2 separate regions of the Homo sapiens genome follow, and region 2 is linked to region 1. The links come from fine-mapping of genetic effects on gene expression. A gene starts in region 1. The other region holds a variant in brackets. All regions are shown on one strand. Distances are from middle to middle. Region 1 holds the start of TBL1XR1-AS1 (TBL1XR1 antisense RNA 1). Region 2 overlaps TBL1XR1 (TBL1X/Y related 1).

The links. PIP is the estimated chance that this variant, and not a neighbour inherited with it, causes the effect. A credible set is the group of variants that fine-mapping cannot tell apart.
Region 2: its variant is the best candidate, but not a certain one, in a credible set for the expression of TBL1XR1-AS1 in tibial nerve (GTEx, PIP 0.52).

What each region holds. Positions count from the first base shown.
Region 1 is chr3:177,033,713-177,045,432 of GRCh38, reverse strand. It overlaps TBL1XR1-AS1 (TBL1XR1 antisense RNA 1), which reads right to left and starts at 8,028. Exons shown (of 4, transcript NR_174966.1): 1 at 7,689-8,028; 2 at 6,983-7,071; 3 at 449-536. It overlaps TBL1XR1 (TBL1X/Y related 1), which reads left to right. Exons shown (of 16, transcript NM_024665.7): 11 at 6,999-7,120; 12 at 7,261-7,335; 13 at 11,108-11,235. RefSeq lists a silencer at 3,563-3,807 and enhancers at 5,218-5,512, 6,854-8,053.
Region 2 is chr3:177,075,911-177,092,241 of GRCh38, reverse strand. All of the region lies in intron 2 of TBL1XR1 (TBL1X/Y related 1), which reads left to right. Among named protein-coding and RNA genes, the nearest start is that of TBL1XR1-AS1, 47 kb to the right of the region's middle. The variant GACAT/T (reference allele first, on the strand shown) is at 8,929.

The sequences.
Region 1 (11,720 bases):
TTTTTGTGCCCACGCTCCGTTTAAGCCTAGAACCTTTGCGCCGCTTTTCAGTGAGTTTCCCGACTGCAGTAACTAAATGATGTTAAACTGGAACAAGATACCCAGTGGTTTTAGTACTACCTGATTTAGCTGTCTCTTTGATTTTGTTGTGCTAGAAAAAATTTCAGTTTGGAGACTGACTAAAATAACCCTGGTTATTCTCAAATCTTTGATGACATCCTTTTACAAACAGCGAGCCAGTGGCACAGCATCAACTTTAAAATGGAAATTTGCAACTTCAGGCATTTTGCTTTTTTTTCATTCTCTGTTTAGTGTGCCTAAACAAGCCAAAATAAGGTGCAAAATGATTTTTCTGTAGTATCTGAATAAGTTTGCAAACATCGTTAAACAATTCAACTTGATTAAAGCTCACCACTTAATAAGCATTTACACATACATTTTTGTTCACCTGTTGTGCTTCCTTTTCATCTTTGCTTCTAGTTTTCAGAATTCTCTCAGGCTTCTTGGCTGTTAATCATACTAATTTCTCGTACATCCTAGGAGTAATGTAAAGTTGAAGTAAGTATGTTTATGGTACTATTGCTAGGTACCATATGATTAGTACCAACTCTGTGTTGGAGATGGTGCTCTTTCTGTCCCCTTTAGTCCTGACTACAACCTGATGAGGTACATAGTATCAAAGTATTTTTACGAATAAATAAGCTTCAGTTTACCCATCGTATTCTTTCTTACCATACTTTTGTTTTTAAGACAATTTTATTGAGGTACAGTTGACATAAAATGAACTGTATGTATTTTACTTGAACCATTTGATATATTTTGACATATGTATACACCATTGAAACTATTACCGCACTCAGGATAATGAATACATCTGTTACCTTCAGACGTTTCTTCTTGCCCCTTAGTGATATCTCTCTCCCATCCCCAGAGATTAGATTACATTGTATGATTGGGATCATACAGTATATACTCTTTTTTGGTCTGTCTTCATTCTGCATAATTTTTAATTCCTGCAATATACAAAATATATCTTATTCAACTGTTATCAGTAAGTCTTCTAATCAGCAGCTGGCTATTAGTTGGTAAGATTTTGGGGAGTCAAAAGCTATGTGCAGATTTCCAACTGCACAGGGGGTTGGTGCTCCTAACCCTCACATTGTTCAAAGATTAACCATATCATATGTTCAAAAAGCTAAGTAGAGACACAGAAGATATGTTATTAAACTTCTAGAGATGAAGTTATGTTATTAAACAACATGTGAGATGAAAAGTGCACTGGTTAGGATAAACCACAGATTCGATGCTGCGGGAAGAAATGATTTATGACCTTGGAGGCAGCATAGAATCTATCCAAAAACGCAGAGAACATAGACTGGAAAAGAGGGTGTGGTGACAGAGCATCAGTGAGTTGTGATAAAACTTTGGGCAGACTAATACCTACATAGTTAGAATCTTAGGTAAAAAGGTAGGGGAGGGAAGAGGGGCAGAAAATAAGATTATTTAGCCCATTTAAAATTATCACCTCAAGGTAGATGGTGACAAGTTAAAGGTGTGCACTATAAATCCAAAAACACTACTAAAAATAATTACAGTTAAGAACCCATCAAAGGAGAAGAAAATGTAATCATAAAAAATATCCAATTAATCCAAATGAAGGTAGAAATACAAAAAGGGGAAAGAACAGAAGAGATAAACAGAAGTACAGTAAATTTAAATGTAACCATATGACAAAGCAAAATAAGTGTAAATGGCCTAAATATTAAAAGGCAGAGATTGTGAGACTGAATCAACAAGCAAGACTCAACTATATACTGCCTATGTAAAATATACTTCAAATACAAAAATATCAATAGGCTGAAAATAAAATGATGTAAAAATAAATACCATGCTATCACTAATCAAGTGTACATTTATACATTTCAAGTGTATAAGTATGCATTTCAGCAAGAGACAGCTGAAATGGCTACATTAATATAAGACAAACTAGATTTCAAAGCTCAGAAGATTTACAGGGAAAAAGGAGGTTATTAATACAAGATAAACAGTCAATTCAACAAAACATTTTAAAATGATAATGCATTTAATAACACTGTTTCAAAACATATGAAGCAAAAACTGATGGAACTTCAAAGGAAATAGAAATTATTGTGCTTCCAATTGTTGAAGACTTTAGTATTCTTCTCTCAATAATTGATGGACTGAGAAGATGGGAAGAGGGAAGTAAGGCTATAAACGATTTGAAGATTATCCGATAACTTGACCTAAATGACATTTATAGCAACAATGGAATTAAATTAGAAATCAGTATTAGAAAGCTCTCTGGAAGAGCCCAAGTACTCAGGAACCCACACTTCTAAATAACTCATGGGCCAAAGGAGAAATCAAAATTAAGTTAGAAAGTTTTATATTTGACTAGAGATTTTATAAGTTAATAATATACTGAAATCCATTGAATTGTATGCTTTAAACAGGTGAATTGGTATGTGAATTATATGTCAATAAAGGCTTTTTTTTTTAAAAATAAAGTCAGTAATAAATGCATCCTTCTTCGCTCATAGGTTCATTCCTTCTCTTTTAAAATTATGGAGGCTACATGGGTTAATGAAAGTAAATCAGAAGAGGGGTGGAGCAGACAAAAATGTTAACTTTAGCTCCAAGATTTTAAGAAATTATTTAACTGGGAAAATTAAGTTTTCATAGCCTCTTATGTGTAAAATGAGATGGGTATTAGTGAACACACTTCTCTCACTTGTCAGGTACATAAAATTTTTTTTTATGTTAGATATTTCTTTCTAAAGAACTTGTACTATCAAGACTCATTTTAAGAGTAAATATAAAATAAGGAGGTATGTGTTCTTTGATTACATCAATCTATAAGCACTGTATTTTATGAGGCAGGCATATCACAAAAGCGTTAATCACACAACCTACGTTGCAACATTTCCTACATCCCAACAATCTTGATTTGGTTATGTAGTTTGGTTTTGTTTTTCTTTTATGAACCTAATAGCGTGTTTGTTTTAATGCTACTTTTTGTTTATTTTAGCCTCCTCTCTAACATTTTGCAGGCTGCCCTGTATAAAATTAACACCTCTGGAACATCCTGACATATATTTGGCCTTGTGAATAACACTTTAATGTATCTTTAACTGTCTTCTAATTGGATTTTTCAGGCCTCCCTTCCCCATTTTTTTGCACTTGTTAACAATAGAAAGATTACTAACCAAAAAAATTAAAATTTTTAGAATTGTATTTTAAGTGATAATACTTAATGTCAAAATGAAAGTGCACAGTCAAAATGAAAGTGCACAGTAGTTACTGAATTAGGTTCCATGGAGGAAAACGACGTGTAAACTAGACACTCCAATAAAGGGAATTTAATACAAAGAAATATTTGCAGAGGTGTTGGGAAGAGTGAAAAACTAAGGAATAGGAGGTAACCAAGAGACTAATTGAAGGAAGTCTAAGACTCTAGAGGAGAAGGCAGGACCTGATTGTCCAGTGGGGACTGGGTTGTAGAGGATAGGCTGCCTGGCAATGCTCGACACCCAGCCTGAAATGATGGCAGTCGTGCTTGTCTTCTTACTACTCCTAACTTTGGACTCCTCACTTTGAACTCCTGACAGTGTCTTACATTGTATGAACCCATCTGGAAACCACTAGGCACAGGAACCCGGGACATAACTTACAATAGCCCTCCTGGGTTGCACATCCTAGCAGGGCAGAGTGCAGTAAGGAACGAATGAGAGTTGACTGCCAAATGAACAGGACAGTCATCCACATTGCTGTCAGAAATGGTGATACACACAAGTAGAGGCAGAGTTCACACATCATGCGGATAAAGTTGGCACATATTTTTGTTTACTAGTTGATTTAGGTTGGGTTTCTCCAAAAGGCAGGCCCTGTGCCAAACATTTGAGTGAAGTGACTTATTGTGGAAAACCTCTTAGGAGAAATAAGTGAAGAAATATGGGAAGCAGGATGGGGGGGAGGGAAGAAGCCAAGGAAGGAAGTGATTCTGGTGAAGAAAGGCCCAGTCTCAGCCTGGTGCAGAGGGGAGCTTGCACCTCAAAGTTTTTCTTACATTGAACCAAGGGTGCTAGGTCTTTAGATCTCTCCTCCCTCCCTCCTTCCCAAAAACATACACAACACCAGCTTGGATACAGAGCAGCAGAGCAAGGCAGTTCTGTGAAGTTTGTCCCTGGCAGCCCTTAGCAGTGAAGCACTCAGCTGGGAATTGGACACAGCACAGGCAAAAAGGCTTATGGGCAGGAAGAGCAAACACCAGCTAAAGCAGTGCTGCTTCATGACTAGAATAAAAATACAGCCTGCAACTTACTCAGCCTGACAACTCTGAGGTGTGATTTTTGACTATGTTTACTTTGTTGGGAATTCTCATAATTTGAAATTTTGTATAAAAGGTGAATTTATGTTAATAATTTTATATGGCACTTTGTTAAAAGGTTGATTGAGGGAGGATTAAATATTTTAAAAATATAGTTATTTGAAATTTCATGTAACCTCCATAGTAAGTTCCCATTAAATCTTTTCTTTCCAGTCTGTTTCCTTTATGAGCTTACTCTATCCAAGTGGTGTCCTGATACCTAGTTTTTCATTGTAGAAATATACCCAAAACTAATTATTTTAATGTCTGGTCATATTACTACAATTCGCTTCTTTGTTCTTTAGTACTTAGTACTTTTAGATTTGGGGCTTACCTGATTTGTCTTTAGCCAGGCAGTGAAATCAATTTCACTCTTTCCTGTTGTACTTTATCTTTTAAAAAAAAAAAATCTCAGTATAGTTCTGATTAAAATTTCCTTTCTGAGTCCTAAATGCTTTAAATCTTCTTTTCCCATTCTTTTTACTTCTCCTATCCATAGTTACAAGTTCTTACGCATGACATATCTCTTGGCTGATAAGTTTAACTGCTTAAGCACCTGTTTATGTTTCATTTTTAACATAGCCAGTTACTATTATGCTTGGATATACACAATGAGGGAGTTTGTGGCTTTGTTTTCCCTTTCCACAGACGTCTCTAATCTCCTTTATTAAATGCTTTGTATTTCTACTAATTAGTATACATAGCTAAACTTTTTGTTTTTGTTTTTTGAGACATAGTAGTCTTACTCTGTTGCCCAGACTGGAGTGCAGTGGTGCAATCACGGCTCACTGCAGCCTCGGCCTCCCCAGCTCAAGCAGTCCTCCTGCCTCAGCCTTCCAAGTAGCTGGGACTATAGGCATGGACCACTACACCTGGCTAATTTTTTATTTTTTAGAAATGAGGTCCCACTGTCTTGCCCAGGCTGGTCTCAAACACCTGGGCTCAAACAGTTCTCCTGCCTTTGCTACCAAAGCGCTGAGTCACACCTGGCCACACAGCTCAACTTTAACTCTCCTGTTTTTCCCCTTTAAGTTTTTTCTTTAAATTAGGGTTGACAAACTTTCACTAAAGGACTTGAAAGTATTTTAGACATTGTAGGCCATAAGATCTCAGTTGCCACTAATCAGCTCTGCCCTTGTAGTGAAAAAGCAGCCATAGGTAATATGCAACTTCATGCATTTGTCTGGGTTTCAATAAAACTCTTATTTATGGACACTGAACTTTAAATCTCATTTTTCCACATTTGTATGTCTTCCTTTGATCCCCTCCTCCCCCATTGCACTATAAAAGCCATTCTTGGCTTATGTGCCATAGTTTGTCAACCCCTGCTTTAAATGCAGTCTTTGATATGCTTCTGTTGCCTAACCCAGTTACTCACTATTATTACCATAATCTGTGTTGCTAATTACGGAGATCTTTTGCACCTTGCAGCAGGAGACAAGGATGTTCAATAATTTCAGAGCTAAACTCAAAGTATTAAATGCCAGCCTGCTTTGGGGCTTCAGAGATTTTTAAATTCATTGATTTTAAGGGGCATTTGATTTTAAGAGGTGTTTGACAAGAACAGATTTTAAGAGGTATTTGGCAAAAGTTGCTTAGAAGAAAATTATTTGCAAATCATATGCCGTATTCCATTTGTTAGTTGAGTAGATGATAATGGGAATGATACTTATTCAGCATAACATTTGTCTAACTCTTGTAATTGACAGAGTACTTCCACACACATGATCTCACCTGGTCTTCACCATGTGTACTAAGGATAAAGATAGTACAAGTTTAGTATCCCTTATCTAAGTGTTTGGGACCAGGATTGTGTTGCATTTTTTATTTTTATTTTTTTTCTGATTTCGGAATATTTGCATATACATAAGGCAATATCATGGGGATGGGACCCAAGTCTGAACATGAAATTAATTTATGTTTTACATATACCTTATAATATAGCCAGATGGCATCATTATACAGTATTTTTACTAGTTTTGTGCATGAAGTAAAGTTTGTATTAAGCATTTAATGTGTGGAATTTTCCACTTGTGGCATCATATTAGCATTCAAAAAGTTGCAGATTTTGGAGCATTGTGGATTTTGGATTTTCAGATTGGGGTGCTCAACTTGTGTGTTATCCTCACTCTTGTGTGTGAGGGTAACACTTGCATGTTACCCTTATCTAAAGAGGATATATCATAGAGGTTAAGTGACTTGCTTGTGTCCACTAATTATGCAGTGACAGAACCGAGGCTTCTTGTCCATTGAACACTCACAGATTTTAGAAATGAAAAGCATGATATCATCACATTTAATTTTATCATTTTATAAAAGAGAACCCAAGACCCACAGAGCCAGCTCTCAGGAACCTTCATCTCCCAGTTACTAGGCCAGTGTACTTTCTCTTAGGGTCTGTCTCACCTAGAAATAACTAAATTGAAATTTGTTAATATTGTTGTATATAGATACTTTTATTTTAATTTTTTCTTAATATCTTAAAAAGTATAAAGTAAAATGTTTAAGTGCCTGTTAGTATATTTTATTAGTCAACAATGGTTCAAAGCTAAAACTCTTGGATTTTAGTACATGTGGAATAAAAGCAAATCTAACCTTTGTTCCTTTGCAGCACCAGCATTGGATGTTGATTGGCAGAGCAACAACACCTTTGCTTCTTGTAGTACAGATATGTGCATTCATGTCTGTAAATTAGGACAAGACAGACCTATTAAAACATTCCAAGGACATACGGTAAGAAACCTTTTTTCCACATTAAAGTGGTCATGATTAACAAGTAATGTTTCAGAATAGTTTTAAAGTATGTATGTTTAATATTCAAGTAGCTACCCAGTCTATACAATGAAAATGTGAATATTTACTATTATTTTTAGAATGAAGTAAATGCTATCAAATGGGACCCAACTGGCAATCTCTTGGCCTCCTGTTCTGACGACATGACTTTAAAGGTAATTTGCTTAGTAGGGAGAAATGGGTTGGCGGTGTCACACAGTATGGTTGCTCTGGCCATTTTAAGACCATTTAGAATGTCTGTCTTACATGGAGTGTTTGTACCTGCATGAAAACTCCAACATTTTAAATGGCTAACCATTGTTTTTTAAATTTTATAGTTTCTTTTCTGAAATACATAAAACTATTTGAATGTAGCAAATTATATTAAAATGATGGCTTGTGATACAATGAGACATATGATACCCTATTAGTTAGGGCTCTCCAGAGAAACAGAACCAATAAGAAGATGGATGGATGGATGGATGGATGGATGGATGGATGAGAGATTTACTGTGAGAAATTGACTCACGTGATTATAGAGGCTGAGAAGTCCCACAGTCTGCTGTCTACAAGCTGGAGACCCATGAAAGATGGAGGTGTGGTTCCATTCCAGGGCCAGAGAAGGAGTGCCAATGGTGTAAGTCCCAGTCCAAGAGCAGAAGACCAATATACCAACTCAGCAGTCAGGCTGAGGCAGAGAATTCTTGCTTCCTTGGCGGTTTTGTTCTGTTTAGAGCCTCACTGGACTGAGTGATGCCCCCCCCGCCGCCCATTGGGGAGGGTGGCAGTCTGCTTTTCTCAGTCAGCTAAGTTAAATGCCTGTCTCAACTGGGAACACCCTCAGACACAGCCGGAAATAATGTCTCACCAAATATCTGTACCCTGTGACTCAGTCAAGAAGACAGATAAAATTAGACATCACCAATAGTAAGAAAGGTCATGCTATAAATTGTCTTCACCATTAGAAAGTCATATGTTGAGGCAATTAAAGTTTATTTGCAATTAAAGTTTATTTGCATATGTAAAGATTTGACTTAATAAGTACTCAAAATCTTTGTAGCATTCATGGATTTGATTGGAATTCTTTGCGTTGTATTAATTTGATTTTGCTGTGGTATGACTATGTATCACCATTGCTGGGAAACTGATACATAGCAGAGAATCTCTCAGTGAGCGAGCCTAGTTGACATACCAACATCCACATCTCAACATGGATCTCTGTTTTTCTTGTTGTATGACTAAAAGCAAAACTGCTGTCTCGCACCTAAGCACACCAGATTCCTCATTTGGGGAAAAAAGCATTTGGAGATAAAGAACAACGTAATACTTATTTCCAAAATAAATGAAGCTTTGAGCCCTCTCCTGCAACAGCTAACCCTCTACTGAAAACAGTTTTATCCTTGACTTTGCAGTACCAAGGACTGCAGATGTGATGACCGTTACAGATATGAAAATCATGAGGGAAAACTGATTTTCCTGCTACTATGAACAGATTAAATTTAACTTTGCGAAACTTGTGAGGTTTTCTCCTTTAAGTATCTGCTATGTTTTTAGACAGTTCTTCTTAAGTCTGGGCTCCCTTACAAAATTGCTAGTATTAATACTCTTCTTAATGCTTTCATCTTTGGCTTTTCCTTATGTGCACACGTATTAATGCTTATAACATGAAAAAAACTTCTTCTGGAACTGTGTGTGACACATATGAGGAAATGACAGAAGGGCAGTGTCCAGAGGGCCTTGTGCCACATATTGAGTTGAAGCTGGAGAGAGGTTAAAACTAGAAATTGTTAGAGAGCTTTTCTTCATCCTAAGAATGTTTAAATGTCACAAAGGATTTTAAAGCAAAAACTAGGATGGATGGATAATGTGTAATGGGCCGTTTTCTGAGAAGAGGGAATGCCAGATGGAATGAGAAGGTGACGCTGAGTCATGCGAATGGAGGAGATAGGTGGGACTGATGCTTAGAGAACTGTAAGCTCAAGATTAAAAACTGGGAATTCTCAGCAGATAGGTGGTCTTTAAAATCCTTGGGCATGGCCAGGCCTGGTGGTTCACTGTTGGGGTTCAATCAGGCTGGTGGGAAAAATATTAGAGATAGTTATAGAAATAGACACATATCTTCTTGGAAAACTGAGAAGTAACTTCAGTAATAGATCTGGCTGAACGCGGCCTGGTTCCTTTACCTTTAGTTAAACAAATTAAACTAGTAATAAAGGAAGGCAGGGTAGTTTACCTAGCTAGCTTGTTTACTCATATAATATTAAGACTAACCTTTGATGTGCCATGGGTGCTTAAGTGCTTTTTACTTGGGAAGTCCACAATGTCAGTTACCCTCTAATGGTGTTGACTCAAGCCTTTGTGAATTAATCTTACTGAATAAATTTGAGTCTCACTAGCGGATAGGGCCATGGTCGCAACTGTTTACAGAACTCTCCAGGGAGTCTGTAAATGGCTCGGACACCCTCAGCTGGACTGGCGAAACAGGATATCTGTGTGTTAGTGTACTTTATTCATCCATTGCTGGGTCAGGGTCTGCAGGCAGACACCCACAGCTAGTGCCCCCATGTTGCCACAGCTCATGCCTATAATTAAAGCACTTTGGGAGGCCGACGTGGGCAGTTCACTTGAGGTCAGGAGTTCAAGACCAGGCTGGTCAACATGGTGAAACCCCATCTCTGCTAAATATACCAAATTTAGCCGAGCGTGGCGGCAGGTGCCTATAATCCCAGCTACTCTGGAGGCTGAGGCAGGAGAATTGCGTGAACCCGGGGGACGGAGTTGCAGTGAGCCAAGATTGTGGTGCTGCACTCCAGCCTGGGCAAGAGAGTGAGACTTCATCTCCAAAAAAAAAAAAAAAAAATTGGGGCAGGGACAAAACTGTGTAGGTAGTACAGAGTAAGAAAAGAGGGGACCTAAAAAAGTGAGTCTTAGAAACTCTAACAATCACCAAATCAAGAGGGATGAGCTTTCCAAAGGAAACTGAGAAGGTGACTGAGAAAGTGGAAAAAGAAAGTATGTAGAGGAAACTTATTTCAAGGGAGGTAAGAGTTGAGAGTGGCCAACAGTATCAAATTCTATGAATTAGAAAGGTCTAATGAAATCAGTTCTGAAAACATGTCGTTCAGATTTATTTTACTTGGGGTTGTAAATACATAGGGCACCAAAAACACTCTGATGCTTCATTATCTTTTAATGGTTATGTCACGGAAATGTAAAGTTGAGCTGATTTTTTTCTTGGTTGGCCCTCCTTGGGTTTGGCATGTTGTATGTGTATGTGTTAAGGAGATAACTGCAGGACCTACCATGTCTTTATTGAGTGATTTTTTTTTTCCCAGAAATACTCTTCGTGTTGATTTCTATGAATTTTTGCTCAAAAATAATAGTCACTTGAAATCTATACACACAGGCATATTTTCATCTCAGGAAAGGCTTATTCTCTACTTTGACTACTTTTTTCTACTTTTTTTTTTTCCTACTTTTCATTTGAGCTTTATTTCCTATGCTACTTTTTACGGTTCTCTGTGAGTCCTCATTATTTATAAGTTGGTTATTTATTTTCAGTTCTCCATTGTAAAATTTTCCTGATTCTAAAATTCTAAGAGCAGTTTATTATGTAGATCTTTTGCTTAAGGGACAGTGTAAAAACTGTGCCTTCAACATTTTAGGATCGTTAACTAATCTCAGAACAACTATAGTTAATTCAGTCTTCAAACTTTGTAATAGTGAATATTTTTAAAGGGCTTAAAGCTAACTTTTTTTTTTAAACAGAGATGTAAATATTAAATATATCCTATTGCATTTCAGTTTCTTTGTAAATATTCTATCATCATTCTGGTTATATCACTCATGTTTTAGACTGTCCATATAATATTTTAAGTGTCAAAATAATATTTTAAATATACTCATTGTATGGAAAAATAATTGTATACATTTTTCTTTTTTGTTTAGATATGGAGTATGAAACAAGACAATTGTGTCCATGATTTGCAAGCACATAATAAAGAAATTTATACTATCAAATGGAGTCCAACAGGACCAGGGACTAATAATCCAAATGCCAACCTTATGTTAGCAAGGTGATACTTCTGTTTCATTTTTCCTTTTATGAGTCTTCTACAAATCAGACTTCCAATAGATATGACAGAAGTTTAGGGAAGATTTCATGAAGTGGAAACTTTTTTTTTTTTTTTTCCAATTTCAGTAGTTTTTGGTGTATAGGTGGTTTTTGGCTACAAGAATAAATTCTTTAGTGCTGATTTCTGTGCACTGGTTTTGCAAGCAGTGTAGTGTACCCAGTGTGTAGTCTTTTATTCCTCACCTCTCTTCTCAGCCTTCTCCCCACTCCCACCTCCAGTCCACAAAGTTCATTATATCATTCTTATACCTTTGTGTCCTCATAGCTTAGCTCCCACTTACAAGTCAGAACATGATATTTGGTTTTCCATTCCCGAGTTATTTCACTTAGCATGATGGCCTCCAGCTCTATCCAAGTCACTGCAAAGGACAATATTTTATTTCTTTTTATGGCTAAGTAGTATTCCATGGTGTATGTATACCACAT
Region 2 (16,331 bases), 45 kb before region 1:
CAGGTGGTGCTAAGTATAGATGGAATACCTCTAATCTGAAATGCTCCAACATCTGAAATTTTTTGAGCACTAACACGACACTCAAAGGAAATACTCATTGGAGCATTTTGGATTTCACATTTTCACAATGGGAGCGCTAAACCGTTATACTGCAGATATTTCAAAATCTGAAACACTTGTAGTCCCAATCGTTTTAGATAAAGGACACTTACTGTATGCTTGCATAAGGAAGCACCCAATGTTTGTTTTTTATTCCTGACAGTAGGCGACATTGATGATCATTCCTAGAACCATTATTTCCATGAGGGCAATGAGAATGTTCATATTCAATTATATCAAGCTTTTATTATGTGTAACATTTCTATAAAGAGAAACTTTCCCCAACAGATATTTCGTTACTTTGTGGCACAGATTGCACAGGAAAGGCATATGAAATGCATGATTCTTTCTTTTATTTACCAGTTTTCAAAGTACTGAGTTGTTTCCTGGAAGCCTTTCTAGTATTCTTGAATACCTTTCTAGGTAACAAGTGAGGATTTTTTTGAGTTATTGTGAGCGTGTGGATTTAGGCATTTGATATGTTTTATTGACTGTAGTTTGTATTCTTATTGATGTCATTCCCTTGGCCAAAAGAGCCTTTTCAAGTTGACTTCTGAGTCTTTTCTGACATGACTCTAGTATTGTCTCTCTGGTAGCTTCCTTGCTTTCTGACAAAACAACATGTTGGCCAAAGCTCATCTTGTACATGTCCTTCATTGGTCCTCAGATCAGCTATGTCTCTAAAGTCCTGATTCCTTTTAGTGAAAAAGAATATTTATATATTTATGTTATATAATATGCAATAGTTAATATGTAAACATAATAGAAAATAATGTATTAAACAAAAGTAGAGTATAAATGACATATAAAGTACATGTACTTTATAAGTACTTTAAGTACATGTAAATGTAGAAAATAAACATAATATAAAATTATACGTATTTTTATATTTATAAATGTATATTTAACCAGTATGAGTAGTGACTGTTGTTTTCATTTTTCTCTTTTTGTCCACGTCTCAGTGGGATTACAGCTAAGTATTACGTTTTAAAGTAAGTCCTCATGTGTAATCTGCCCCCCTGCCCACCTCCAATTTGATATATAGTTGGGTCAGCTTGTCCCTCCCCTCCCCTATCTCCCCAATTCCTGCTCCCATTTCCCTTTTCTTCTTCCCTTCCCCTCTCCCTCTTTTCTTTTTCTTTCTTTTCTTCTTTTCAGCAGGGTGTCACTCAGTCACCCAGGTAGGATTGCAGTGGCCTGATCATGATTCACTGCAGCCCCGACCTTCTGGGCTCAATCGATTCTCCCACCTCAGCCTCCCAAAGTAGCTGGGACCACAGGTGCATGCCACCATGCCTGGCTAATTGTTTTAACTTCTATTTTATTTTATTTCGAGACGGAGTCTCGCTCTGTCGCCCAGCTGGAGTGCAGTGGCGTGATCTTGGCTCACTGCAACCTCCGCCTCAATTCTTCAAGTGATTCTCTTGCCTTGGCCTCCTGGGCAACTGGAACTACAGGTGCGTGCCACCATGCCCAGCTAATTTTTGCATTTTTAAGAGAGACCATGTTGTCCAGGATGGTCTCTGTCTCCTGACCTCGTGATCCACCTGCCTCAGCCTCCCAAAGTGTCTTGATTACGGATGTGAGCCACTGCACCCAGCTGATTTTTTTTTTTTTTTTTTTTTAGTAGAGACAGTGTCTCCCTGTGTTGACCAGGCTGGTCTTGAACTCCTGGGCTCAAGCACTCCTCCTGGCCTCAGCCTGCCAAAGTGCTGGGATTACAGGCCTGAGCCACTATGCTGGGTCCAGGCCAATTTGTTTCATTTTATTTTTAGTATTTAGAATTTAAAAATATTTGTTTTTATTTTGTTTTATAATCATAGGAAACATTTATATCACTTCAAAGTGAGATACATTCTTACTTCCTCCTTTTGTAAGTAACCAAGTTTTAAAAATCAAACTATTTTTGGTTTATCTTGCTCAAATGTAAACAAATCCATGGGTATTCTTAAATATTCTGGAGATCACTTCATAGCAGGACATAGAGATAGTCTTTATTCATTGTTTTACAGCTGCATTCTACTCCATTACACAGATAGCTGTTTCAAGAGTGGAAGTTTTTAGATAGGAGCATGAAATGTGCATGTCAATTTGCCAGATTTCCTTCTGTAAAGCATTATGCCATCTTATGTTCCTTTCAGCAATATACGAGGTTCCCTCTTTCCCCATTAGCAGACAGTATATATGATGTCTTTTTTGATACATATATGTCTTTTAATCTGATAGGTGAGAAATAGTATTTCACTATGGTTCTAATTTGCATCTTTTCATTTATTTTATAACTGTTTGCTAGTTTATTTTAGAACTGTTTGCATATCTTTTTCTTTGAACTGTTCCACAGATAGATTCTTATTTTCCAGAAAAGTCTACCAACTGTGTCGATCAATCCCCTGAGCCCTTCTATTTCCTCTTGTTCTGTTTGTATAGTCATCCCACAACTTCTAAAAATTAATTTGGTTTAACAACAGGACTCTTCCACAAAGAATAGAATGATGCTGAGCAGTTCTCTTAGGTTTGATTCTTGAGGAACCAGACCCTTGATTATAACCCTTTATTGGAGAGGTGGATCTAGAAAGTTCCTGTGGAGAAGCCAGAAAGGGAAAAGGAGGCTGATACCGACTGCCTGAAAGACTAATTTTTTTGTTCAGTTGGACTCAAATCATGTGGCATCCTCGGGAACAGTGTAGAACATGTCTCTTTTTCCACCTAAGGGGCAAGGAACCTCGGGTAATTTGTCCACTAACCCCCATTCCTTAGTCTGGGAGTTAGGCAGTTAGGCTTTGCGGAGGGCAGGGCAGCAGCTCCTGACCTGCTGTTTGGCCTCAGGGTGCTTTGCAGTAAAAAGCTACCCAGCTGCTTGGGAAAGTTGAGTGATGAGGGAATGTGGGCTGGGCCCTGCTGGCCTCTTCTGCATTGATGAATATTCTGGTCTACTGACAGGTACATTTCTCAGTGTAATTAGTAAATCACCTCTTTTACTCATAAACCACCCTGCTGTATTTTGTTAACATATCTTCTCTCAGAACTTGATTATTCTTAAAAAACTGAAAGAAGTTATGACTTGCCAGACTGAAGACAAGACCCCAAGGAGTTGTGACCCTGCCAACAGGTCGCTGCCGAGAAAGAGTGTGGTACATAGCGAGGAGTCAATGATTATTACCTACTTATAAATGTAGCATCCATAAATTAATTTGTTCTATTTACTGTAGGAAAGTTCATTGTTACTTTCATTTTTAATCTTTTACCATCATGATTAGGAACTGGTATTATTAAATGTGAAGAAAGAAGGACATTGTCGCATGATATTGTGTGAACCATTTTCATTTGGTTGAGAATGTATGCCTCTGGAGAGCTGATTCCCAAATCAACAGTAAGAGGGTTACATTGAACACCTCTTAGTCTCTAGGCTTTTCTTTTCTTTTTTTTTTTTTTAAACAAATGAAGAAAAGCAGAGCACACACAAATTGGAGTTATATTTAACTGATTCCTTGTATCTTTGTCATTAGAGGCTGAAATAACTGAGCCTAAAATGGAAGCTGTGAAAGACTGTAGTATCACGTGAAAGGCAGAGAAAGCTTGGCTTCTTACATGGATTTAATCTTTACACAGGTTGAGCATTGGTTATCCAAAATACTTAGGACCAGAGTATTTCAGATTTCATATTTACTTGGATTTCGGAATATTTGCATATCTATAATGAGATATCTTGGGGATAGGATCCAAGTCTAAACACGAAGTTCATTTATGTTTCATATACTCCTTATATATATATAGCCTGAGGGCAGTTTTATACAGTATTTTAAATAATTTTGTGCATGAACCAGAGTTTTGACTGTGACTTGTCATATGAGATCAAGTGTGGAATCTTCTGCTCATGGCGTTATGTCACTGCTCCAAAAACTGCAGATTTTGGAACATTCTGGATTTTGAATTTTTAGATTGGGGTGCTCAATTTATATTAACTGTGATAGAACTTGTTATGGTGAATTACTATTTTCATTTTAAAACATTTTTCATGTTTCAAATAATTTTGCTGTCCTTTCTATAAATTCTCAGTGTAGGCACTATTCAGGAATAAAATACTAGCTGTCTTACCTCGAGAAACACAGAGTAGTGTGAGAGCAAGGACATATACCCACAATAGAGGGATAGATGTTTAACACGGTAATGTTAAAACAAAAGGTGTCCTATCACTGAATATTATCTGGCTTATTTTTAAGTTTTCCTAATTTTCTTTGGGTGTACTATATTAAATTTGGTCTTACTAGATTTTGACTATTTGGGGTTGGACAGCATGGTCCCATATAGCCATAAAATTGGAAACTGAAGGCCATTTCTTACTTCAATGGTGTATTGAAGCCATTTGAAGACTCCCCGCCCCCCATTCTTTTTTCCTTTCATTCATCCATCCGTCCAGTGGATAAGATTGCATGATTTAAAAAAAAAAAATTTTGCTTGAGACAGAAATTAACATGCTAAAGTTAGTGTGTAAAGGACAGGAACTTCTAGTTTCATACAGGTTCTGTTTGTTTGCTTCTTCAACTTCTGTCCTTTTTCTTAAGCCAGTTAATTTTAGTTATATCTTTTGATTTATTCCTGGTTCATAGAAACAGAAATCCTTCACCATGCCTATTTTCTCTCTTTTTCTATGATTTACTAGCACCTGTAAGGAGAGTTTTTAAAACAAAAAGGTTGGAATGCTAAAGTTCTTAATTCACAACCCTCTATATGTTAGGCCTTCATTTCCTGTCAGATGTTTATTGGGATCATTTTGAGTTTATTACAACCTGATATTTTTTAAAAAAGTGACTTAGAGCCTAAGGGCTTATGATTATAGAACAGATTACATAGAGGTACTTTAAACATGTAAGAGAAAAATGCCAAAAACCATTTTGATTAGTTTAATTTTTTTTTTAAATAAAAAAGTAAGTAAAAATCAACCCCAAAATGGAAGGGTTAGTATAGTTGACCCTTGAACAACACAGGTGTGGACTATGTGGGTTCACTTCTACTTGGTTTTTTTAAAAGTACAGTTGCATCTAGTATGCCTGCCTTTCTGCCTGTCTGTCCTTCCACCTCTTCTACCTCTCCCACCCCTCAGACAGCAAAACCAACTTCTCCTCAGCCTTGTGAAGAGGATGAGGACCTTCAGGATGATTCACTTCCATTTAATGAATGGTAAATATATTTTCCATATGATTTTTTAAATAACCTTTTCTCTAGCTTCTTTTATTGTAAGAATACAACATCTAATAGCTACAACATGTAAGGTGTGTGTGTTTATGTTACTAGTAAGACTTCTGGTCATAACTAGGTTGTTAGTAGTTAGGTTTTTGGGAAGTCGGAAGTTATATGTGGATTTTTGATTGGGTGGGTTGATAAAACCCTAACTCCTGCTTTGTACAAGGGTCAACTGTATATGTTCCGTGATAGAGAGTAGTTATCTTACTTAAATATTGTTATAACCATGTAAAGTTGTTAATATCTGTTTCATTGGTGAGAAAACCATTATTTTTCTTAAAAAAAAATTGTGGGCTCTAATTATAGTAGAGAGATGAAAATTTATTTCAGAAAAGAGACTTCCGTTGCTCCAACCCCATGTCATGTAACAGAGCAGACACTTTCATTACCCCCTGAACATACAGCTTGTGTATGTATGTATGTAAGACAGACTACCCATATTGAGACACCTTGGCCCTTCTTTTCTATTGGCTCCCCTCCCCCACCGTTTCATGTCTGTATTTAGACTTACCCAGTATGGTAACCACTAGAAATACGTAGCTGTTGAACACTTGGACATAAGACTAGTCAGAATTGAGATGTGCTGTAAATGTAAAATGCATGCTGGATTTTGAAGACTTAATTTTTTAAAGTAAAATATCTCAATTTTAAACTATTGATTATAAGAAATAATATTCCAGATACATTGGGTTACATAAAATATTATTATTAGAATAAATTCTGCCTGTTTCTTTTTAACTTTTTCATGTGGCTACTAGATAATTTAAAACTTACGTGTGTGGACTTGGCTAGTGCTAATATCTGGGGAGACTGGAATGACTTTCTGAGGGTTCCTAAAATTAGATATTGGGACTGTGTTACAAAGCTAAGTAAGTTCTCTTGTTTAGTTCTCATTTTACAAATGAAGAACTAATGTTTAGAGAAGTGATTCCATATCATATACTTTGTCATAGTTACAGAACCAAGAATTGAACCATTATCTCATTTGCACTCCAGCATTCTTTTAAATTTTGTGTAACACAGATTGTGTAGAGGTGAATCGTGAGAGTTTTTGGTGGACCTCAGGCACCCATAGAATAATAGGATTGAAAGCACCTTGATGACAGGTCTCTAGATTTTTTCATTACTTTTGAGAGCTAAAGATATTTGTTATTTTGGGAAAATTTTCTTTTATTAAAACAGAATTTTATTGTCATCTATATGTAATCTCTTATTCAGGAAGATCATAGTGTTTGCTATCATTTTCCTATACATCCTATTGTCTTAGAATTTTTTCCCATATTTTTTCAGTCATAAAGTTTTCATTTGAAAACTTTTTTTTATCGTGTCTACTTCTGAGAACTTGTGTTTCCTGTCCCTTCATGGGCATCTTTGAGAATTCTGACACCTGGATCATCTCAGGATTAATATCTGTTATTGTCTTTTCCTTTGAGAATGATCAGATTTTCTTCATCTGTACCATTCCTGGAGAATGTTGTTTTTAAATGAAAGCAAGCAATTAACATTGATAGGCTCAGACTCCCAAGTTCTGTGGCACCCATGGGCAGTGGTTCCAATGTCAGTTCAGTTTTCAAAGTCTTTGCTAAGCTACTATGAGTCTGCTTCCTGATTGAGCCTCTCAGGAGTTAGTATGGAACCTGAAGGTGATTTGTGTCTTCAGTTCTCAAGACCTTTGTAGTGCTTCTTTGGGTATGTTCCACATGCACATCTTGGGATGAATTTGGAACTTGTGTTGGTTCATAGGAAGAATTGCAGGATCCACTTCAGCTCTCTCTTAGGGATTTATTCTTATGCTTTTCAGTTCCTGGAGGCCTCGTTTTTTCTGATTTAGTTTCGATTTTTTGATTGAAAGAAACTGGCTCAATCTAGCTGGTGAAAGTTGGGGGGAACACCAAAAAAGTAGGCCAATTACAGTGTTGAACAAGTGTGCTCAGAAGAATAGTAGAGAGTTATAATTCCACAAATGGAGTAGTGGCTGCTATGGAACAAATCCTCCCACAAATAGTAACTACAATTTCTGGACAACATATGAAAAACAAACATTATGAGGACACCATAGAACAAACCTGTTTCAGAAGTCAGACCGGATTGGATTCTTAAGAGAATGGCATTGGAGTTTCCTGTTATTGACGGATCTTTGCCTGAGGACAGGTTCCCGTTGGCAGAGGAATTAGAGAATTGTTCAGAACTAACATTGCACTGCAGAGTAATGGGGTCCAGCACAGGAAAGGAGGAAATCCAGGAAGAAGATACCCATAGAGGTGGAGTACCAAATGTGGTTTATAAACTCTCCTAAAATATGGGGTTGACCCCCAAACTGGTAACAGTTCAAGTATCTATAAACCAAGAAAAAGGATTATCAAGTTGCTGTATGTGTACAATGGAATACTCCTAAGCAATAGGAAGGAACCAAGGCATCGATGTCTGCAGCAACTTGGATTAATCTCTGAAACATTATGCTGACTGAATTAGTCTTCACAAAACAAGCCATCATATGTGATTCTACATATATCCTAAAACCAGACAGACCTCATCTATTGTGCATGTGGGGTGGGACAGCCAAAACGAAGTTATGAAAGGGAAAGAAGAAGAGGTTGGTAGGTGGTAGGAATGAGTGGTGAGGACAGGGATTAAGTGGGGAAGTGCATATGGCAGCTTTCTAAGGCATTGGCAATGTTCTGTATTCTGTTAGGGATTTACGTTACTCAGGTACATACGTTTGTTAAAACTTACTGAATGATATAGCCAGTATATGTCCGTTGTATTTTGTGTAAGTTTTTTCTTTTCTTTTCTTTTTTCTTTTTTTTTTTTTTTGAGACGGAGTCTCGCCCTGTCTCCCAGGCTGGAGTGCAGTGGGGCAATCTGGGCTCACTGCAGCCTCCGCCTCCTGGGTTCAAATGATTCTCCTGCCTCAGCCTCCCAAGTAGCCGGGATTACAGGTGCCCGCCACCACGCCCAGCTAATTTTTGTATTTTTAGTAGAGATGGGGTTTCATCATGTTGGCCAGGCTGATCTCGAACTCCTGACCTCGTGATCCACCCGCCTCAGCTTCCCAGAGTGCTGGGATTACAGGCGTGAGCCACCATGCTTGGCCAAGTTTTTCCTTTAAAAAAACAAAAACAAAAACAAAAAAAAACCATTACTTGATGGGCAAGTTGCAGTATTTACAGAAGTATACTGATGACTGCAAGTTCTTTGAATAGATGTATTAACAACAAATATGAGGAAATGTTAATTTTAAATTGTAGGTGGTAGCTATGTGGATATTCATTTTTTTTCTATATGTTTGAAAATTTTCATAGTAAAATGTTAAGATAAAATAGAGACCAGTGAATGATATTTCTCGAAGTCAGATTCCTGTTAATATGTTGTTTTTTTATGGCATTCATCAAAATTGATTTCTTTAAATTTGAAAATAGTTTAAAGAGCTTATCGGTAACATTTTTCTGCCTGTGCATTAAGCTGTGACCTGCTTATGATGCAGAAAGATAGAGAAATATGAATAAATAAAAGCAAGAAGACAAAACATACATACTAACTTGATCGTTTCAAAATGATGTAGCAAAGACTAAGGTCATTTCTAATACA[GACAT/T]TTGGAGGGGATGGATACATAATTAGACTGTGCTCAGATTCAAGTATGATTAATGGGAGATGGAATTCATGGAATTGGTAATTTCGAACAGGTTTTTGAAAATGCTATGGGAGGAAATTATTAAGAGTTTGTTTCCACTCTCTTAATTGACCAATAGTCATTTATGGATTATGGCTTAGGACACTTTTTTCAGTGTGTTGTATTTATTTTTCAAAAAAAAATGCTGTATGATTTTTATTGTGGAATTATTAGCGAGATTGGATTGATTAGAATTTATTTTAAAATATCTCTTTGGAGGCCGAGACGGATGGATCACGAGGTCAGGAGATCGAGACCATCCTGGCTAACACGTTGAAACCACGTCTCTACTAAAAGATACAGAAAAAATTAGCCAGATGTGGTGGTGGTCGCCTGTAGTCCCAGCTACTCCAGAGGCTGAGGCAGGAGAATGGCGTGAACCTGGGAGGTGGAGCTTGCAGTGAGCCCAGATGGTGCCACTGCCCGTCAGCCTGGGCAACACAGCAAGACTCCGTCTCATATTCATATATATATATATATATATATATATATAATCTCTATCTTAGAAATTTAGTAATAGTCTGTTAGGGAGTTGTTGGATTAAAAAGCCACTGTGACAGGATTTTATGGTTCTTTCATAAAGTTTTGAGAGACAAGTATAGTTGTATTAAAATTCAGTGCTGTAACATCTAGTGTTACGCATAACTGTTACAAATACCAGTTCATTTTCTGGCCTCTCTTAATTTGCTGTTAGGAAAGTTAATCTGATAGTTATTCTGATAGGCTCAATTTTTAAATATATGTATCAGATTAAATTGTGAGTGGGGATGAGAGAAAAGTAAATATTAGTATCAAAATATAATTTGTAATTACAAGATATAAGATTTTTAAATTTATTTCATTTTTCTCTCTGGTATTTTTTTTTGAAGTACCTCAATTTTAAATTCATTTTAGAACATAACATGAAATTACTTGATGTTATAAGGGTTTGATATTTTTCTAGCAACCAAAAATTTGGACTTCTTTTTTGGTCTTTTGTCTTTTTATCACTCCAAATATACTGCAATAATTTTTTTGTTTAAATCACCATTTGTATATATTATAACTTTCTCAAAGTAAAAGTGCTATGTTGTGCGTAGCTCTAGCCATTTTGTTGTAAGAATTCTATATTACTGATACCTAAAAAAGGCATTTTGGTCTTAGAGAAAATTGTGTTGTATGCTGACTTTGGAGATGGTAGAATTGCAAGTGTGTGTTCATGCCTTCCAGATAGAAATTTAGTGGTGAACAATCAAGGGGGTTTCACACTGTGTACCAGCTAGTTATTTAAACATCAAATTCTCCTTAACTTCTAATTTTAGTACCAGTGTCTTCCTAGAGGAGAATATTTTACCCAAACAGAAACAATAGTTCAGTTAGACTTAAATTTTATATTGTATATTATATATACAATACTGTAATTATACTGACTAAAGACAATACTATTAATTGTATCTTATAATTAGTAGTTGTATTTTCATTATTAAATATCTTTTTTTTTTTTTTTTTGAAGTCAGGGTCTTGCCTTATCTAGTCAGGCTGGAGTGCATGCAGCGCAGTCACGGCATACTGCAGCCTCAGAGACCTCCTGGTTTCAAGTGGTCCTCCCACCCCACCCTCCTGAGTAGTTAGGACTACAGGCATGCACTAATATTTAAAACTCTTTGTAGAGATTAGGTCTTGTTATGTTGCCCAGGCTGGTGTAGAACTCCTGGGCTCAAATGATTCTTCTCTCTCAGCCTCCCAGAGTGCTGGTATTAAAGGTGTGAGCCACCACAACCCACCTGTTATTAAATATCTGAATGTTTAAGTCTCTGAAAAAAATGATGGACAAGGTAAGATAGATGGATAAAATTGCTGAAAACAGCTCATGATCAAAATAGAACCCTAAAGAGTTATCTGTATATCCATGTGATTTCTGTTATTTGCCATCATAATACCAGAATCAAAATGAAAAATAAATTTCATGTAAATGAAAGTTTTGTTTCAAAGATTTCTATCACAGAGACACATTGATATTACATCCATCTTAAGACTGGCCAAGAACAAGAGAGAAATCTTATTAATGATTCTGAATGTCGTATTAGGAGATACTATGTATTGCCAAGGTGAAATGTTCAAATGACTAAGTAGTGGACTTGCATGTGTGTCAAGTTATTTTATAATCACTTTAGGTAATTTGCATTTAAGAAAAACTTTTAAAAACAAGCTTTTTCCATATGAATGTTTCATCATATCTTTACATCCTTTAAAAGTTGATTTCTAAGATTTTCTTGATTGTAGAGATACGTTTACTGGTTCTCATATCCTTGAAGTGTTAAGTCTGCCAGGTAAGAACCTTAGCATCAACATAAGCAATGAAGTATAAAGGAACAAATAAATATAAAGTAGAACATCAGCTGATCTTTGAACTTAAAGCTAGTTGTTAAGTTTGTCAGACCCTGGAGGATTTGCTAGAACCAGGCAGTTAATTGTATTTAGGTAATTTAGTTAGAAAACCACAGTTTTTGAGGTACCAGGACCTATTGTTACTGATAGATGTTTGATTTCTTTCAGTATAGAAAACTTAAACATGGAGACACTCTTTTAAAAAAATGTTTCTGTGTGTCACTGAAAAAAAATATATATTTTTTCTTTCAGTTAGCTTTATTGTCAGAAGGAGAAGCCAGATTTCTATTTTGAGAGAACCAGAAAAAAGTATTATGAGTAGGGAAAATATGCTCATTAACACAGAAGGATATCACAAGCATACTTATTGTTTTATTGCATGTTAAATTTAAATAGTTTAATTTACTCTAATCATTTTTCTTGTCATTTTATTCTTTGTTCAGTTATTTCATCAGGGGCAGTTATGGGCACTTTATCACTTAAAGTAAGTACTAGCCCAAAGGTGTACTATTTTCTAGATTTACTTGGGCAGTCTGGCCAAAGGTGAATAGGTCTTTTCGGGCCATAATTTGGGTTACTCATTACTAATTCAGCTTAGATGTTAATGATAAAGCCTGATAATGTTACTAAGGCTGATATATTCTAAAAACCTTTCTAGCAGTTAAAAGTTAGAAAGCAATTGCTTTTTGCAATTTAAAATTTTGTGTATGTCCTTTTTATTGAGGACATAATTATGTCCTTATGAAAATTATTTTCAACCTTGTTCCCTACTGCTGTTTCCAGTGTTAACAGTTAAACCTTACTGTTAACAGAAATCTTACATTTGATTGATTCTTCCTAAATTCATCTTTAGGATCACTCAGTGTTAAAGCTAGAGGAGCCCTTTCAGATTATCTAATTCAGTACCCTCATTTTACAGATGAGGAAACTGAGGCCTTGGACTAGAACAGAGGTCTCCTGACTCAGTCCAGGACTCTTTCTATTACATCATGCGGCCTGATATTTGTCTTTATGGAACTCAGCAACATCACATACAGGGTGAGCTTTTTTTTTTTTTTTTAAATGAACACATAAAGTGATTTGCTACCCTCATTAGTTACTAGTCCTCATTCTTGTCTAACTCTTATTTTCCTTTTCTACCCATATTTATTTTAATTGATTATATAGACCCAATTACTTGTGACACTTTTTTATTTTACTGCTACCTCTTCTTGACGTTTGACTATTATTTTTAAGAGTTAAACTTTCAGAGGATTTCTTACCAATGATGACTGCCACTTTATCACGCACTGTAGCAACAGTCGATTAAAATTTATAACAGGAATTATTTGTAGAGTGTTACATTTAGATTAAAAAAATTACAAATAAGTCCAAGAGTGTGGATAAGATCTAAGCAGCTATAATACTAGATACAAATTTTTTTTTTTTTTTTTAAATGGAGTCTTGCTCTGTCGCCCAGGCTGGAGTGCAGTGTCGTGATCTTGGCTCACTGCAAGCTCCACCTCCCGAGTTCACGACATTCTCCTGCTTCAGCCTCCCGAGTAGCTGGGACTACAGGCGCCTGCCACCACGCCCAACTAATTTTTTGTATTTTTTTAGTGGAGACGGGGTTTCACCGTGTTAGCCAGGATGGTCTTGATCTCCTGACCTCGGGATCCACCCACCTCGGCCTTCCAAAGTGCTGGGATTACAGGTGTGAGCCACCGCACCCGGCCGACATTTTTTTTGTGAAATACCGACATCCCAAGAAATAATCAGCCAACAGTGTGATGTAACTGCCATTAAAATAGCCTATGCTACGAATGCATGGATTTACACAGATTTATGTTTTAGGTTATTGCATTGTTTTCTGTATCGGTACTCAAATTGGCTTCTGTGTCCTTTTGAGAAGTCCCTAGCAGTTTTTTTTTTCTTTTGAGACGGAGTCTCACTCCGTTGCCCAGGCTGGAGTGCAGTGGTGCAATCTCAGCTCACTGCAAGCTCTGCCTCCCGGGTTCACGCGATTCTCCTGCCTCAGCCTCCCGAGTAGCTGGGACTACAGGCGCCCGCCACCATGCTCGGCTAATTTTTTGTATTTTTTTTGTAGTAGAGACGGGGTTTCACCGTGTTAGCCAGGATGGTCTCAATCTCCTGACCTCGTGATCTGTCCGCCTTGGCCTCCCAAAGGTTTGGGATTACAGACGTGAGCCACCGCACCCAGCCGATATTGTTTTATTTTAATCAAGGCAAAACTGTATGTAAATACTGCTTGAATTATACTTTATTTTTTTTTTTTTGAGATGGGGGTCTCACTCTTTCGCCCCAGCTGGAGTGCAGTGGTGGTATAATCATAGCTCACTACAGCCTCAAACTCCTGGGCCCAAGTGATCCTCCCACCTCAGCCTCCCAAGTAGCTGGGACTACAGGTTCATGCCACCATACCTGGCTAATTAAAACCAAAATTTTTTTTTTTTTGTAGATCCTGGGTCTCCCTATGTTGCCCAGGGCTCAAGTGATCCTCCCGCCTCTGCCCCCCAAAGTGATGGAATGACAAGTGTGAACCATGCACTCAGCCGAATTATATTTTATATGCTGGAGCATGAGAGCTATGTTTTATTATTTATGAAAGTTTAAAAATATATTTGAATAATGTTTTAGGTGCCTTATAAGATACAGGCTGCTGATTTGTTTTGTTAAAACAGGCAAAAGATTTATTCATTCTGAAGAGAAACCAGATCATGACAGACTGCTTTTTAAATGCTTATAATTTGGTAGTGGTTGAAAAAATATGCATATTAAAAGGTGACATCATAATAATGTTAACACTTAGTGGGTTATAAATGGCTTTTCCATGCATTCCCACCTGTGAGGTGTATAGATTAGGTTTTATTCTCTTTCACAGTTGAAGAAACTGGGGCTCCGGGAAGTTAAAATGACTTGATGTAATGCCTTAATGTCAAAAGCCAGTAGCATCAAAAAGAAAATGTCAACGTTCTGACTTCTGGTCAATAATCTTTTTACTGTTGTCCAGTTTTGAGAAGAGCAATAAAACTGCACTTAGGGGTACAGGAGGAAAGTAGCCAGACATCTTTAATGTTGATATTTGAATAGGTATCATAAAGAGATAATATTTGAAGAAGAATAGACAAATTTCAACAAGTGCAGTTGAAACAGAACTAAAAGCAGAAAAGTGGAAATTTGTGGGACATGTTAGAATGATACCAGCATACTCACTTGAAGAGTAAAGTGCATATAAAGGTGGTACCATATGGCTAGATAGGTACTTTGGAACCATAGAATGGAGAACTTAGGAGACTCTTAGGCTGTCGTAATAATACAGGTGATAGGTACTGTAGAAAGAGAGACGTGGCTGTAAGAGGTGTTGGATACATTTTAGAACGTGTAGATTTTTAAAGCTTCATTTGTATTATGTGAATATAAGTTATTTTCCCTTTTCCTCAAGGACTCCATCTCACCAAAAGCCCCTCATTTTCAGGTGAGATCTAAAGTAAATAAGTATTTTTCCCTTCTGAAAATTTTCTTTTATGATGGATTTAACATAGTTTCTTACCTGCTCTATATTTATAAAAAGTTTCAAGTTAATAATACTAATAAAACTATTATTATAAGACTACCAAAAGCAGTTTAAAATTTCTTTGTGGTTCTTTTTAGTTCTTAGATTATATTCCCTAGAGATGTATGCAGCGAAAGTACTGTTGTAAGGTGTGTTAGTGTTCTTTGTTAGTAGACAGTTTTACTGGTTTACAATACTAAAATGTTCTTTCTCATTCATTTTGTATGTAGATAAGGTGGGTTGACTGTGGCTCTCTTCCAGTTGTCTGCTCATTTGGATAGCCAAGCTGTTGAAGTAGACCCCATATAGGACATGCTCGTTGAGCAAGAGAGCTGGCAGACACTTGTAATGTCTCTTAAATCTTGTGATTGGATATAGTGTGTATCACATCATCTGGAATTCCACTGGCCAAATTAGGTCACATAGCCAAGGTCCAAGTTGCTGGGATGGGGATGAATAACTCTATTTCAGGAAAAAAGAATGCTTAAATTCTGAACCAGTAATACATTCAACCTCTACAGCCACTTAAATTGATTCTTCCCATGTGTTGATGCCATCATAGTTACCATTATTAGGGTTAGTTTTGTTTTTTGTTTTAAGGGGATTCTCTGATAACCAAGGTGGACAGATGACTGAAGGTAAGAAGAAAAGGCTTTTGTTACCCTTGTCTGTACCTGTCTTCTACAGCATGGAAGGGGCAAATGATGGAATCTGTATTTGTCTTCCCAGGCTTTCTCAGCTTAGTGTGACTGTTATAGATTGAATTGTATCCTCCTAAATTCGTAAGTTGGAGTCCTAACCTCCAGTACCTCAGAATGTAATCTTACTTGGAAATAGGGTCCTTATAGAGATACTTAAGTTAAAATGGGATCATTTAGGTAGATCGTAATACCTTATGATTGGAGTCCTTATAAAAAAGAGAAAATTTGGGCACATACAGAGGGAGAACAGTGTGAAGACACAGGGAGAACATGGCAAAGTGACTAGAGTGATGTGTCTACAAGCCAAGCTCTATGGTCCGAATTTGTCCCTCCAAAATTTATGTTGAAACCTGATCTCCATTGCAGTGGTATTAAGAGGTGGCTTTTTTGGAAGTGCTTAAGACATAAGGGCTTTGCCCTCAGTGAATAGAATTGTGACCTTATAAAAGAAGTTGAAGGGAACCCCCAGGCTCCTTAAACAGTATGAGGAGGACATGGCCAGAAGGCACCATTTATGAAGCAGAGAGCCTTCACTAGGCACTGTATCTGCTGGCACCTTGATCTTGGGCTTCACAGCCTCCAGAACTGTGAGAAAAAACTTCCGTCTAAGGTATTTTTTGTTGTATTTTGTTTTTTTGTTTTTTTTCCGGTAGCCCCAAATGGACTAAGACACCAAGGAAGCTAGGAGAGAGGCCTGGAA